2 linked regions of the Homo sapiens genome follow. Each later gene encodes a partner of the first gene's protein in a complex. Each region holds a gene or a part of one and is shown on either strand. Other genes may lie near its edges. A codon is read from its position in the direction of its gene.

The links. The genes of interacting proteins can lie anywhere in the genome.
Region 2: the proteins of PACRG (region 1) and TUBB4B are in contact, whole or in part, in a cryo-EM structure (PDB 7UNG), measured with the Homo sapiens proteins. Residues at the interface, in NP_689623.2 of Homo sapiens: Glu40, Gly41, Phe42, Thr43, Val44, Ala46, Met47, Met48, Val53, Arg54, Gly55, Pro56, Pro57, Ala58, Ala59, Gly60, Ala61, Phe62, Arg65, Lys154, Arg160, Arg162, Arg191, Gln192, Pro195, Asn198, Ile199, Phe200, Asn202, Met203; in NP_006079.1 of Homo sapiens: Glu194 (codon at 5,785), Phe260 (codon at 5,983), Pro261 (codon at 5,986), Arg262 (codon at 5,989), Gln291 (codon at 6,076), Phe294 (codon at 6,085), Asp295 (codon at 6,088), Ala296 (codon at 6,091), Arg306 (codon at 6,121), His307 (codon at 6,124), Gly308 (codon at 6,127), Arg309 (codon at 6,130), Tyr310 (codon at 6,133), Val333 (codon at 6,202), Lys336 (codon at 6,211), Asn337 (codon at 6,214), Ser339 (codon at 6,220), Tyr340 (codon at 6,223), Phe341 (codon at 6,226), Gln375 (codon at 6,328), Ser413 (codon at 6,442), Asn414 (codon at 6,445), Asp417 (codon at 6,454), Ser420 (codon at 6,463), Gln423 (codon at 6,472), Gln424 (codon at 6,475), Tyr425 (codon at 6,478), Gln426 (codon at 6,481), Asp427 (codon at 6,484), Glu432 (codon at 6,499).

The regions. Positions count from the first base shown.
Region 1 is NC_000006.12:162,723,008-162,731,144, reverse strand, and holds the start of PACRG (parkin coregulated gene protein), read right to left. Parts: upstream 3,172-8,137; 5' UTR 2,910-3,171; coding exon 2,754-2,909; intron 1-2,753. UniProt on the Homo sapiens protein: Microtubule inner protein (MIP) part of the dynein-decorated doublet microtubules (DMTs) in cilia axoneme, which is required for motile cilia beating. Suppresses cell death induced by accumulation of unfolded Pael receptor (Pael-R, a substrate of Parkin).
Region 2 is NC_000009.12:137,237,014-137,244,207, forward strand, and holds TUBB4B (tubulin beta-4B chain), read left to right. Parts: upstream 1-4,273; 5' UTR 4,274-4,347; coding exon 4,348-4,404; intron 4,405-4,707; coding exon 4,708-4,816; intron 4,817-4,897; coding exon 4,898-5,008; intron 5,009-5,482; coding exon 5,483-6,543; 3' UTR 6,544-6,686; downstream 6,687-7,194. Other genes in the region: CIMIP2A (ciliary microtubule inner protein 2A), read right to left, coding at 6,687-6,775, 7,158-7,194. UniProt on the Homo sapiens protein: Tubulin is the major constituent of microtubules, a cylinder consisting of laterally associated linear protofilaments composed of alpha- and beta-tubulin heterodimers.

The DNA.
Region 1 (8,137 bases):
ACCTTTAATATTAAAAAAATTATTTATTCCATTCCCCTAAACTTTGAGCATAAAGCATCTATAGTCTTTTGAGAAGGAAAGCTGTAATAGAAAGCTTAGGCTGAACTCAACTTCTCTGTCACCATAACCCTGGGTCGATTTTCTAACTTGCTTCGTGATAAGCTTGTTCAGCACAGAAAGTATCTGACAAGATAAAGACAACAAAATACTGGGTTACTAGTTTCTGGTCATGGGCTCTATCACACCCCAAACAAGACTTTTAAAGGAAAATGAACTATGAAATCTTCAAGTTGTGTATCTCATATCTCTTTATAGGCAAGCACTATAAAAATGTGAATTTGAATATTATTTCATTGCAGGGCTTTTGTGATGCTTGTTTTCTTATAGAATGCAACAAAAATTTCATGGAAAGAAAGTCTAGTTTCTATTGAAGAAAAATATTTGACATTGAGATTTTAAAAATTTTGCCATTTACATTTATCATTATTTTTTCAATAATCTTGCACTCTCATATCCAGATTGTTTAAATAAGCATTTCTGCTTGCACAGCCCATTTGATGAAACATATTTATTATCAAGTTTATGTACTTGTATCACTATCGCACTCAGAGAAATATCAGGAGTCTCTGTATAACTCCTTATGATATATACAGTTCTTCATGTTTTAGGTGGAAGAGCATTGGAATGTTGACTTATCTAACTGGAAAAGTGGTTTGGAGGGTGTTGGCTCTTGGAGCATGAGGTTGCAATTAAGAAAAGCTGGAAATTGGCATACACGTCCTGAATCAAAATACACCTTCAGAAAGAGATGAGGACATTTTCACCTTATAATGCTGAGAAGTCTATACTGCTAAAGATAAAAATGGTGAAATGTAAATATTGGTTATGAAATTGAAAATTTTTATTTCCTGTACCACTGAAGTTATTTTGTATAAACGGTATTGTCCAGCCTTCTTTTATCAAGATTTGAATGTTGTTATTTTGGTTTTCCTCGGAGTACTAAGGGCAGGGACTTTGCTTTGCTGATCCCAAATCCCCAGAACTGTGCTTAGCAAACACTGGGTATTAAAAAAAAAAAAAAGAGAGACAGTTGTTGACTGAATAAATAGATGAATGGATAAATAATGTTTGCATTTAAGAATTACGATTTCCAATGGCAAGAGAGGTATTGCTAGTACAAGATTTTCCTTTAGAACATAAAAAGAGAAGATAATGGATCTCAATTAAGTTGTTTATAAAGAAGCCTGCTTCATAATCAATGTTTTTTTTAAGTCATGTAGGCATACTTATTACATTTGGCAATACAGAAACATCAGATTTTGCAGAACTATCTCTTTAGGTGTAAGATTATATTAAAGAATTAATATGATACAAGAATTATGAATACAGGTTTAGGAAAAAACAGAAAAGAACCCCAACCAGTAAAAAAAAAATTAAAGTATAACATTAAAAAACATCAAAATTGTAAATATTGTGTAGAAGAAAAACTAAATGATTAACCTGAATGGTTATGGTATTGCTGATAAATGCATCATCTTGACTCCTAGGAGAACCAATTTATGTGAAATTCCATGAAAAAGAATTAGTTACAACAAGCAGAATTTTAGTCCATTTCCAAGAATTTTAACTACTGTAAATCACCTGACACACTTCCCAATAATTAGGATATCGTTTTGCATAGCCACATGGGAACCTGGCCTAGAGGTCTATAGGTAATCTGTTTCATTCATGTATTTTAAGTATGTCGTTTAGGAATAAGTTATCAGGTTTGCAACCTATAAGCAAAGGAAATAATGTGACACTGGAAAACAACACTATTCATTTAACATAATGAATTGCCATGTAATAACTCAGATCTTCCCAGGGTGTAAATTACACAAATTTGAAAGATGCATTTATTATTTAATGCCTCATTCCCAGACAGTTGCTTACTCAGTAGCAAAATCTGTCTTAGCATACCAAGTGTAAAGCTATTTAACAAATAGGAAGGTTTAAAAAATATATACTATCATGCAGACAGCTAAAATATTTGTATATATTTTTAATCTTTTTTCTCTAATGATACTTAGAATATTTTATTTTTATTACTACAAATAATAGAGATGAAATATGAATTGTATTAGTAGCAGAGATATATGAGCTAAAGCTTGTATTGTTTAAAGCACATCATCTTAAAAGGCCTGTCAGGAAACAGTGTTCATATTAAGTTGGCTTTCAGTACTCTAAGAAGATGACATCATTTTGTAAGAGACAAGTGTTGTTAGAGCAAATGCTAGGATATTCTAAAATTTCCTAGGTTGAAGTGAAGAAATTTCTCATTATAGATTATTTCATGAGTTTATGTTCCCGGTTGTATATCAGCTCATGTTAAATTTTGCAAGAGTTTATGATTTCTAAGAACTCACCTTCTATAAGGCCCTTTGCTGAGTGGGGCTAGTTAGGAATTAGTAAGTAAAGGGGATCTTTTTTCCTCGTGTAAATAGCTTAAGAGTAATTTTGGGCGGTCCAGAAACCATAAGTTATCAGGAAGGTGCTTATAAATGGGCAGAGTACATCACTTGCCCAAGATTCTAACAACCTAGCCTGCCCCCCACACACTGTGGGGCACCGTTTGCTACTTGCCAAGTAACTGCCTTTTTTGGCAAAGACCACCCAGGACATGGCTCAGAGTCCATCCTAAGGCTGGCCAACCTCTGTAAATCTCGTGTCCCCTGATTCAGAGCGAGTGCATTTAATTCAGGAAGATCACTTACGACTGAGTTTTTCATCATGGCTTTGACTGTGAAACCCTCAGAAACCAGAGAGTGAGGCTGGTGCACCGGGAGCGGCTGTTGTGCCAGCAGCTTGGTCCTCTTCGGCATCTTGTCTGGGCATTTGTTTAAGCTCAGGGTCTCTTTTTCTGCCACCATCTTCCTAGAAAATGTCTTGTTCTCATAAAAAGTGTAGTAAAAGAATCAGTGGGCTTTACGGATGTGAGCAGGAGGTCTGGAAAAAAATATCAAAAGGCGCGATAATGGTAGAAATTCAACCCCTCGTAGTGCCCAGGTTGATCCAGATGTTTGGCAGCTCCTAGGTGAAGGGAGCTGGACCCTAGGGGCGGGGCGGGAAGAGGGCAGGACCTTGGCTAGAGCTGCAACAAGCTTCCAAAGGTAAGCCTCCCGGTTGCTAAGCGACTGGTCAACACGGCGGGCGCATAGCCCCGCCCCCCGGTGACGTAAGATTGCTGGGCCTGAAGCCGGAAAGGGCGGCGGTGGGGGGCTGGGGGCAGGAGGCGTGAGGAGAAACTACGCGTTAGAACTACGACTCCCAGCAGGCCCTGGGCCGCGCCCTCCGCGCGTGCGCATTCCTAGGGCCGGGCGCGGGGGCGGGGAGGCCTGGAGGATTTAACCCAGGAGAGCCGCTGGTGGGAGGCGCGGCTGGCGCCGCTGCGCGCATGGGCCTGTTCCTGGCCCGCAGCCGCCACCTACCCAGTGACCATGATAGGTACGTGGGTACCTGCCAGGTACAGCCTCTCTGCGCCGCCCCACGCCCCGGTATGGCGCCACGCCCCGCCTCGGCCGACCAGGACCCCCGGTGCCAACTGTCAATGACGGGGCCAAAGTGCCCGTGCCGTCCCCGGCCCGCGCCGCCGGGCTCCCCAGCTCAGCGACGCGGGTCCGGGGCCCCAGTGTGTGCGTTCGAAGCCCTCGCCTGCCCGCCCCTGCTCTGAGCGTTCTCATGAAGACCGCCTCGACGGGGACGCCAGGCGGCCCCGCACCCCCGCTCCTCGTTCGCGGTCCCCCGGACCGTGTGGGGTCCCGAAGCCTTCTCCCCGCCGCCGCCCCTCACCTTCGCCCCGCCGCCGCCCCTCACCTTCGCCCCTCACCTCACTGGCCGGTTGTGGTGCGGTTCAGGACCCATCGAGACCCACTCTCTGTGGGGCTCTTTCAGGAAACCGCAGCAAAGCATTAAACTCTAATGGAAGGCACCTGGTGAGGGTGGCTGGCTCCACAGAAACTCCTCCAGATAGATCTAAACTTGCTCCCTCGGATGTTTCCTTTTAAACTTCTCATTGGAGGGCTGAGATGAAAGAAACATTAAGAGTAAATAGTAGCCAAGATTAAATCTATTGCCTTTTGCAAAATAACCTTTCTTTTTTTTTTTTGTAAAAGAACGACCGAGGTGCAAGTTTGTGAACGAAACTTAGTGGCATCAGAGTTGTTCATGAACACTTGATGTGTAAGATGAGCAAAGGTCCTCTCTTCCAGGGTTGTTGAGCCAAAAGTTACTTTAGGGGCTATCCCTGAAAATTAATGGAAATGCACCATATGTTTGAAAAACAGTGCTAGATGGGGTTTCATTATTGTGGAGGTTTCTCCAGGTTATGTATGGAGGGTTTAGTGAGCTTGTTTATTCCTGAGGAGGGTCCTTTACAAAACACTTTTGATTGCAGTAAGTACGTTCGAAGTCAGATGTGGTCTGTCCAGAAGAAAGATGAGAGGTGGATTTATAAAGTATATGATCTTTATGCACTGAAAACACTTCTTACATCTGTTTATTTGTGAAGTTATTGTTAAAATGTAAACATTCTCCCCATCAGTGGGAGAATCAAGCCAGCTAACTGGCATGGTCTTTGTGGTAAAACAAGAATGTTGTCCAACTTTTCTTCCCTTTCTAGCATGGTCTGACTTTTGGTGAATGACTTGAAAGTTAATCAAATTACGAAAAAAATATTTTTTATGAGTCTTCTTGAGCTCTTTTTAGGTGACATTTACGTAAGATTCACTTGCAAGCACAAGTTTGAACTGAATCAGAAAACCAAGTAGAAGAGATTTTCCAATATCTGTGCTGTCAGTCTACAGGAAGAAAATAGCCTATACCTTATTTTGAAGACAGTTAAATACATTTTATTTTAATTTAACTTAATCTAGTGCACAGATAATTTTAAGAGAAACAAATTTATTGTAAAGCTATATAAAGACAAGCACTTAAGATCTAAAGAACATTACTCAGTTATAAGTTATGACCTAATAAGTGATTATATAAATAACTTTATTAGGATGAAATGTGTTTGGACAGTTCTGTTTAGTTTTATCTGGAATTCTTCCAATAAGGAAGAAATATCTTTGGAGTTGATGATTAAACAGTTATCAATTACTGGTAATGACATGGAGAATATAAGGTTGGTTTTTAAAAGTGTTATTTCTCTCACTCCAGCCATGGTTTTACATAGTGCAAATAAGTGTGCAGTACAACATAAATGATTAAATCCATGCCTGCTTTCCCTAGGAAATGTGCCTTACATATAAGATCATGGACAATGTGCAATAAAATATTCAACTAGTTGCATTGCCTAATTCTGAAATTAGACACACGTCTTTTTTTTTTTTTTTTCCTCTTTTTGAGACAGGTTCTGTCTCTGTCACCCAGGCCGGAGTGCAGTGGCACCATCACAGCTCACTGCAGCCTCCAACTCCTGGGCTCAAGTGATCCTCCCATCTCAGCCTCCTGAGTAGCTGTGACTACAGGTGTGTGCCACCATGCCTGCCAATTTTTTGTTATAGTTTTTGTAGAGATGGAGTTTCATAATGTTGCCCAGGCTGGTCTCAAACTCCTGGGCTCAAGCAATCCTCCCGCATTCGCCTCTGAAAGTGCTGGGATTACAGGCATGAACCACCACGCCCAGCCTCATTAGCCACATTTCAGTAAACATCTGAATGGTCAGTTTGGGATTTGGGTGTCGTGAACAGTGCTAAAGGTAGGTGAAAGTGAAAACCATTAAAAGGAAGCCTTGGAGTGATGGGTTTTGTGTTTTTGTGACAAAAATTCAGAGCCAGGAAAGACATTATAGACTTTATCCAGTGATCACTAAAATGTAAATAGTATGTATCTGGGATTTTCTGTTAAAGGTAAGAGTGCTTCTCAAAGCTTGCTCCTTTCAGGCCTATGCTTTCTCTAACTATTACACTCACCTTGTTGCGGGATTCGGGAGTATGAGGGAGACCTCAGGTTGAAGCAGGAGAATCTTTATTGAGTGTACTCAGGCCCAGCTGACTCACATCCAAAAGACTGGGCCCAGAATAAAGACAGTACTTGACTTTTATACACACTTCACAAACGGAGGTGGGCTAGCTTGAAGCAAGCTTACAGTGGCGTGAAAGCAGGGATACAGAGGCAGGACAAAGACAGGATTGCAGATGACCATTGCCAAGCAACCCAGATGTTCGTTTTCTAGGTTTGCCTGGGCACAGGCTTATCCTATAACCTTCTCTGTGGTGCCCAGGCAGCTGTAGTTCAGGCCTACTCAGGCTTTTTATGACCTTCGTTGTACTACTTAGATAAAACAGAATACTTGAAATCACTAGTTACAGAGAACAAGAGTCTATAAACTCATTCTGTAAAACAAAGGAAAATTTGTTTTTCTTCTCCCTGTGTTGAGGGAGTGCTGAGAGAGTCTCCAGAGCATATTAGATAATATTATCAAGACTTTTCCTGGGTCTAGGCTGTGCCTGTTGCTGCTTCTGGAACAAGTTAGCCTAAAACAGGAAAACTTATTTCTCTTTCTTTTTAATTTTATTGTTCTTTAATTTCCCGCCTCAACCTTACTGCGAATAATATTCTGCCACTTTATTTAAATCCTGGCTTAGTTTAAGGAGAAACGTAAAGATGGGTTTCCTGGTAGAATAGGAGTAAACAGGACTGACTGTGACCTCACTGCTAATGACATGTACCTTCCTTTTACTTTCTCAAAACCGAAGATTCCCTTATTGGCATGAGGACTGTTTCAAAAGTACTTACATTTCCCACCTGCATTGTGATTGATGTGTTGAATGCCCTGACCCAGGCAGCTACAGAAACATAATTTAATTGAAGTCGGTTAAAAATTGTGCCTTTGTGGAAAGTGTGGAGAAGGACTTCAAGATGATATAAAGCAGAATAGAAAAGCTTAAAAGAATTCAATTTAGAAAAATGTAATTTTTGGTACCTCTATTAAAAATATATTTTGACTTTTTTAAAAATGAGCAATTCTTTGTGTTTAAAATGGAATGTTAGTGGGGATATTTGTGGTATGTTCTAAATGTTCTGTAGAACTGGATTTAGGTATTTGAGTAACAGCAGATATTAGAGTGCATGGTTATATATACAACAATGTTGTCAGTATTGAAATACACATTCAGTGTCTTAGACTTTTAAGAAGATTTTTGATTGACAAAAACCATTCATTGGAACATAGTCTCTTCTATACCTTGTTTCACTTAGCATCTCTTTGAGAATTTACATATCTGCATGTCCAGATCCACTCCACAGCGATTCCTGCCTAGTCTTTTATAGGATACACTAATTATGAAAATATTTACCAATAAATAAGCACTCATTAGGTTTACAGACAACTGTTGTCAGAAGTGTTTGTGGCCATATCTTTTTACTTGCACATGTAAGCATAGATGTAAAATAAAAATCGTATGACAATTTGAGTTAAAGAGTTTGTAGATTTTACATTTTCCTAGGTATTTCAAAATTTTTCCAAAATAAGTTGCCCAATTTTACAAGCCTATCTAAAGCCTCCACTAATACAACATGGTAGTAAAGAGCTGCCCTGCCCCTCTGGGCTGAAAATTGCCAAAAGACGTCCTTCCTGAGACTGACTCAGCTTTCACTAGCAGAACGCCTCCTGGATCTCCGGTCCCCCACCTCTCTCTCACCCTAGGGGTAGTGCCTTTCAGTGTACAAGCTGCACAACTGTCCTTGGTGGCCCTGCCCTCCCTTTCAGTGTGTATAAGAGTGCCCATTTCCTCCCATGTGCCATCGAAGATTTTTTATTTTTGCCGTCTTGACAGATGAAAAACAGTATCTTTTAACTTTTCAAATTAATTTAGAAGAAAACTTCTCATTCTCATCTTATAGTGCGTTAGTTTTGCAAAAGCAGATCCAGTGATTCCAGCACCTGCTATGTACCCTTAACTGCTCTAGGTGCCAGGGAAACGAGGGAACACAACAGAAAAAGTCCCTTGCCATCAGGAATGTATATTCCGACTTCACCATTTGGCTACACATCTGCATATTTGTTTTCAAGCTTGTGTGCAGTGAATTTTAAAGTCTCAATTTATATTTCTAGTTGAATATACTGTGTACTGCTCTTTGCCCTGCCATTTTGATA
Region 2 (7,194 bases), on another chromosome or scaffold:
GACACTTCTCTGCAGGGCTGGGCCACGGCAGGTGCTCAGCTCCCAGAACCCACCAGGAAGCCAGTCTCACCCGCCAGGCTGGGGCACACTGAGGCCTCCCACTGCCACGGAGAATGAGACCCTGTCCCGGGAAGGCCTGTCCGTGGGGTGGGCCCAGGAGGGCGGACAGCACCCATGGGGAGGACTTGGGGGCCAGGGGGCCCTCCCTCTGCTGTGTGGTCGGGTTTCCACACAGGAAGGCTTGTCTGCCAGCCAATGGGTAACTGGACACCTAGGAAGTTGAGGGGGGGCTCCTGCCACCTCTAGCCCAGAGCTGCCCACAGCCCTAACCCAACCCCCACTCCCGCCAAGGGAAGAAAGCCTTGGGTTACCCCAGAACTGGAGCATTCATTCAGGCACACAGAGACGGGTGGGTGAGGGGACGGTCCCATCAGGGACAGGTCTAGTTTGCTCATTTGAGTCTGCTGCTGTGGCCAGTCACGTTCTCCCTTCCAGAACTGCAGCCCTGTTGGGGGGCAGCTCTCTTCCCAGAGCCTCCCAGGATTGCCTGGTCAGACCCCACTAGGGGATAGAGGTGCAGCCACTCAGGAAGATGAGGCCTGAGGGGGCCCCACGGCCACTTCTCCTCTGTGGCTCTGTTCTTTTCTGCCCTCAGTTTCCCTTTGCCCCTGCTCATGACCCCCAGACCCTCTGTGCCCTTGGCCCCCAGTCTTCCCTGGGTCCTCTGCCCCAGCCACCCCTCAAACTCTTAGGCCTCCTGGGCCTTGGTTTCACCTACCGAGGGAGGTGACCACCTGCTCTGGGAGCCAGGGGTGCCTCAGGGGTGGGCTCCAGTGAGAATGGGACCCCCAGCAGCTAGAGCTTTGGTTCTCACAGCCCTGTGATTCTAGGACGCCCCTGTGGACCTGACATCAGCCTCATAGAACCGTCTGGCACCCCTGTAGGGGACAAGCCTGGCTAGCTCCCTGGGGAGCCTGAGGGGCCGGGGAGCTCCCCTGTCCTTTGGGGGGGGATCAGTGAGGCCCTTGTGGAGAGAGGGAGGAAGCACCCCATGCACCTGTCCTTCCAGGGCAGGTGAGGCCTCCCACAAAGGCTGGGCGTCTGGTCCTTTAAGGCAGCCAATACTGTCTGCCTGCTGTCCCTGCCTGGCGGTAACACACCCTCCCACTGGGACCATGGCCACCAGTAAACAGAGCCTTCGTTGTGGATCCTCCGACAGCTGCAGGAGGAGGAGGGCAGGTGCCCAGCACTCCCACAGCCACGCCTGCCCCGCTTCCCTGCCCTTCTGGCCCTCCTTGGACCACATCCTGCCTGGCCACAGACCCCAGGCCCAGGAGTTGGTCCTCCTGCCCCACACTATCCCGCCTCTCCATCCTGCAGCAGGGCACCTTGGCTCAGGGTGGGACCTACAGAGCCTTCCCCAACCAGTTTTGTGCAACAGGGGTGGCTGCTGTCCTTGTTGGGCTCAGGCCCAGGCTTCAGGGTGTCTACTGCTGTCTTGTCCCCAGCCAGTGTCCACCTCACCAGGGCAATGCAAGGGCAAAGTAGGCAAGCTGGTGCCATGGCGAGCTCTGGGGCTCTCACCTGGGCAGGTGACACCTGTGAAACGGGTGGCACACTGACCTCCCAGCCCTGTGGGCACTGGTCACAGGAAGCAGGGGCCTTTACTGGAGAGGGGTTGGGAGACTCTGACAAGGTGCAGGAATGCCACACACCTCAAAGAGCAGCCTCAGTTGGGCTCTGCACAGTTCACTGAGGAAAAAAACAGAGCTTCTCCTTCTCCCCTTTGTGACAACTCAATGTTATGAGACTCCAACATGTCCCTGACTACTGCCTGGACAGCTGAGCTACTCTGCAGGACCCCAGGATGCCCTGGGCACTAGGAGAAACCTGGGATGGCTGGCAGCAACCTGTGCACCCCTCAGGCCGCTGCAGGACCCCAGTCCCTCTGAGGGTCAAGGCCTGTGTCACAGTGGTCACTGGAAGCCAGGCCCGCCTTCCTGGGCTGATCTGTGGGGGAGGCCACCCTCCTGGACAGGATGGCAAACTGGCAACAGACCCCCGAGGAGTGAGCACAGCTGCAGGCCCTCGCCCCAGAAGGACAATGCTGATCCCCGCGCATGCTCCGGTGCTGCGTGTCCCGAGTTCTGGTATCGCGCATTATGTGGTGAAGACAGAGGTGCAGTCCCTCCAGGAAGAGAGAAATAAATAAGCAGATGTTGTTTCCAACAGCCTCCAATTGGGAGACAGATGCCCAGTGGCCAGAGCACAGGAGACTGTCAGGGCCGACCTGATGGTGTAATTTATTTAAAATGCTACAAAAATACAGCCAGGTGCAGTGGCTCATGCCTGTAATCCCAGCACTTTGGGAGGCCGAGGCGAATGAATCACAAGGTCAGTTCCAGACCAGCCTGGCCAAGATGGTGAAACCCCATCTCTATTAAAAATACAGAAATTAGCCGGGCGTGGTGGCGGGCGCCTGTAATCCCAGCTACTCGGGAGGCTGAGGCAGGAGAATCGCTTGAACCCGGGAGATGGAGGTTGCAGTGAGCCGAGATCATGCCACTGCACTCCAGCCTGAGCGACGGAGCCAGACTCTGTCTCAAAAAAAAAAAAAAAAAAAAATAGCCAGGCGTGGTGGTGCACACCTGTAGTTCCAGCTACTTGGGAAGGTGAGGCAGGCGAATTGCTTGAACCGGGGAGGCAGAGGTTGCAGCGAGCTGAGATTGCGCCACTGCACTCCAGCCTAGGCGACAAGAGCAAAACTCCATCTCAAAAAAAAAAGAAAAAAGCTACAAAAATGTAGAAGGCACGGCGGCTCATTCCCGTAAATCCGAGCACTTGGGGAGGCCGAGGCGGGCGGATCACTTGAGGTCAGGAGTTTCAGACCAGCTTGGCCAACATGGTGAAATCCCATTTCTACCAAAAATACAAAAATTAGCGGCGTGGTGGTGGGTGCCTGCAGTCCCACCTACTGGGGAGGCTGAGGCAGAAGAATCGCTTGAACCTGGGGGGGGGCGGGGAGCCAAGATCGCGCCACTGCACTCCAGCCCGGGAGACAGAGCGAGACTCTGTCTCAGAATAATAAATTAAGTAAAATAAAAATGCTGCAAAAATACAGCCCGTTTGTTTTTAAACAGGCGCAACCACATGTAATTCATTTTAAGTTTCTTTTCCCACCCAAGTAAAAATCAAGTCATAAATTAGGAAAAGCATTAACAGAAGTATGTTTCAGCCCCAGCGCGCTGACCTGTGGTTGGAATACCGGCCCTGGAGCCCGGAGGTCGGGGCCCACCCGCCGAGGGAGGTCTGGGCGCTGTCCTGGTCTCCACGGAGCTCGCGCACTCACGGGGCCGAGGCACCAAGGCGACCGGCGCAGAGCCAGCGCCGTCTCCACAACAGGGCAGGGCGCGCAGCTGCGGGGGAGGCCTCGCCCCTCCGCTCCCCTCCCCTGCCCTCCGCCCCGGCCCTCGGGGCGCGGCGTCCCCCACGTGCTCCCCTCACGCGACCGCGAGGGCAGTGGGCGTGCGGCACCCGGGAGCAGGAAACTCCGTGGCCTCTGCGGCTCTGTGGAGAGCTCCCCTCCACCGCCGCAGCCCCCGAGCCCGTGTATCTTCCTGCCTTTAAGGCATCGCAGCCTCCTCGGCCTGGAGGCCCCGGGCTCGCTCCGTGCGGACCCCGCTCCAGAACCCGCCCAGCGCGCAGATGCCGTGTCCCGGCGCAAGGCCAGAGAGGGCGCAACTCTGGACGTGGGGCCGCCACCGAGCCTGCCCTTCCCGGCTCCCGAAAGGCCCCGGGCTCAGAGCCAAGACTGCGCTTGCCCGAGGCCCGTCGGGCCCGCCCTCCCTCGGCGCCCCCAGCGCAGCTGCCCGCCGCCCGACCGGAAGCCCGCACTCGCGCCTGCGCCCCACCCCGTCCGCGCGCCGGCCGCGGCACTGCGGCGGTTACCAGGACGCTGAAGCAGCGCAGCCAATAGCGCCAGCCTGGCGGCGTGCTCCCGGCAGCCAGCCAATGAGACGGCAAATCAATCATTTGAAACACCCAATGGACGGAGCACTGCGGCGCCAGGAGGGGGATTGTGATAGGGAGATAGGAGGCTGCGGCTGACCAATAAAGACCAAACTGGCTTAAAAAGGCGGACCTTAGGCAGCTTGATTGACGGGGGCAAGGCCAATCAAACGAGGGAGCTTGCCAGCCTCGTTCTGGCAGCCCATTCCGAGACTAGCGGAGGCGGGCAGGGAGGGTATATAAGCGTTGGCGGAGCGTCGGTTGTAGCACTCTGCGCGCCCGCTCTTCTGCTGCTGTTTGTCTACTTCCTCCTGCTTCCCCGCCGCCGCCGCCGCCATCATGAGGGAAATCGTGCACTTGCAGGCCGGGCAGTGCGGCAACCAAATCGGCGCCAAGGTAAGTTGCCGGGGCGCTGGGGCCAGGCGGGCCTGCCGGGCGGTGTGGGCGGGCGGCCGGGGAAGATGGCGGCAGCAGCGGCCGGGCGGCGCCCCCGCATTGCGGCCGCCGGGCCCCCTCCGCGGGGAATTGGCCGAGCCGGGCGACCGAAGCCCCCAGGAACCCGGCGGCCAGGGCGCGCGGGGCGGGGGAGGGGCGGGGAGGGCCGGGCTGCCGCGCCCGTCCGGGGCGGGGCTGCCTCCCTGCGCACCGGCCGCGGTGACTCAGCCCCGGCCCGCCCGGGCCCGCCCGCGTCCCTTGTAGTTTTGGGAGGTGATCAGCGATGAGCACGGCATCGACCCCACGGGCACCTACCACGGGGACAGCGACCTGCAGCTGGAACGCATCAACGTGTACTACAATGAGGCCACCGGTGAGGCCCCGGCCCCTTCCCCGACCGCCCTCCGGGGACCCCGCGGCCCCTGCCTTGGCTGACGCCCTCCCGTCCCCGCAGGCGGCAAGTACGTGCCCCGCGCCGTGCTCGTGGATCTGGAGCCCGGCACCATGGACTCCGTGCGCTCGGGGCCCTTCGGGCAGATCTTCCGGCCGGACAACTTCGTTTTCGGTGAGCCGTGGCTGGGGACTGGGCGGCGGCTCAAAGGTCAAGGGGCTGCTCCAAGGGCACCGCCGTGGGAACTGCGCAGCCGGGGCCCCTGGACGCCCTCCTCTTCTCTGAGCCACTCAATCCCCTCTACTAAATCGGCTTTGGGAGCAAGGTCCAGCTGTCTGCCGAGGCGAGGAGCCGCCACACACGTAATCTCCCTGCAGGGAGCTGAGCTGGGGCAGTGGCTGTTCCTCTGTCCTTGGGAATTGGCAGTGGCCCCCCCGGGGAGGGGTTTGTTAAGCTGTCAGGTTTGGCCCCTGACTTAATTCGTAGCAGGGCAGGCTGCCGTCTTTTGGCTTTGAAGGGTCCGTTTGCTCTACCTCCAGGGTGAATTCTGTGGTCAGCTCACACCATGTCACTCGGCTTTTTTCGCATGGCGGTGACCAGTAGTGCTGTCTACCTGGCTGACAAATGATTAGCTGTGTTCTCTCACAGGTCAGAGTGGTGCTGGGAACAACTGGGCCAAGGGGCACTACACAGAAGGCGCGGAGCTGGTGGACTCGGTGCTGGATGTTGTGAGAAAGGAGGCTGAGAGCTGTGACTGCCTGCAGGGTTTCCAGCTGACCCACTCCCTGGGTGGGGGGACTGGGTCTGGGATGGGTACCCTCCTCATCAGCAAGATCCGGGAGGAGTACCCAGACAGGATCATGAACACGTTTAGTGTGGTGCCTTCGCCCAAAGTGTCAGACACAGTGGTGGAGCCCTACAACGCCACCCTCTCAGTCCACCAGCTCGTAGAAAACACAGACGAGACCTACTGCATTGATAACGAAGCTCTCTACGACATTTGCTTCAGAACCCTAAAGCTGACCACGCCCACCTATGGTGACCTGAACCACCTGGTGTCTGCTACCATGAGTGGGGTCACCACCTGCCTGCGCTTCCCAGGCCAGCTCAATGCTGACCTGCGGAAGCTGGCTGTGAACATGGTCCCGTTTCCCCGGCTGCACTTCTTCATGCCCGGCTTTGCCCCACTGACCAGCCGGGGCAGCCAGCAGTACCGGGCGCTGACCGTGCCCGAGCTCACCCAGCAGATGTTTGATGCCAAGAACATGATGGCTGCCTGCGACCCCCGCCATGGCCGCTACCTGACGGTTGCCGCCGTGTTCAGGGGCCGCATGTCCATGAAGGAGGTGGATGAGCAAATGCTTAATGTCCAAAACAAAAACAGCAGCTATTTTGTTGAGTGGATCCCCAACAATGTGAAAACGGCTGTCTGTGACATCCCACCTCGGGGGCTAAAAATGTCCGCCACCTTCATTGGCAACAGCACGGCCATCCAGGAGCTGTTCAAGCGCATCTCCGAGCAGTTCACGGCCATGTTCCGGCGCAAGGCCTTCCTGCACTGGTACACGGGCGAGGGCATGGACGAGATGGAGTTCACCGAGGCCGAGAGCAACATGAATGACCTGGTGTCCGAGTACCAGCAGTACCAGGATGCCACAGCCGAGGAGGAGGGCGAGTTCGAGGAGGAGGCTGAGGAGGAGGTGGCCTAGAGCCTTCAGTCACTGGGGAAAGCAGGGAAGCAGTGTGAACTCTTTATTCACTCCCAGCCTGTCCTGTGGCCTGTCCCACTGTGTGCACTTGCTGTTTTCCCTGTCCACATCCATGCTGTACAGACACCACCATTAAAGCATTTTCATAGTGTGTGGTTTCGCTTTGCCCATTCCTTCCAGTAGGCCCTCCGGGTGCTGTTGCCGAATGTCAGGGCGTAGTTGTCCTGCATGGCTGCGGGGAGCCAGGCTGCAGCTGAGCTGGGCTTATGTGCCCAGGACCAGCATGGGCTGGACACCCAGGCTTCAGAGAAGTGTGGGGCTGCCCTGGGCCCTGGGTATCTGCTTGGTGGGGAACTTGCTTGTTGAAGGCAGGCCTGTCCTGTTCCAGGTACCCAACCTTGGGGCTCGGCCTGTGTCTGGGACTTAGGTGGGTCCAGTGACCCCCCTTCCAAAAGGGGTAGGGAGGATGGCAGACAATCCTACCCCAACCAAGGTGGGACCCTGGTAATGGTCAGACAGGTGGTCCTGAACCAGCAATGAAGGGTGAGCAGGTAGAGCCGTCCCTCCCCACATTGGCCGGGGTGTGTCCATGTGACCCTGCCCACTCTACTCACCGGGGATGAACCCCATGTAGAAGGGGATCAGGCCTTG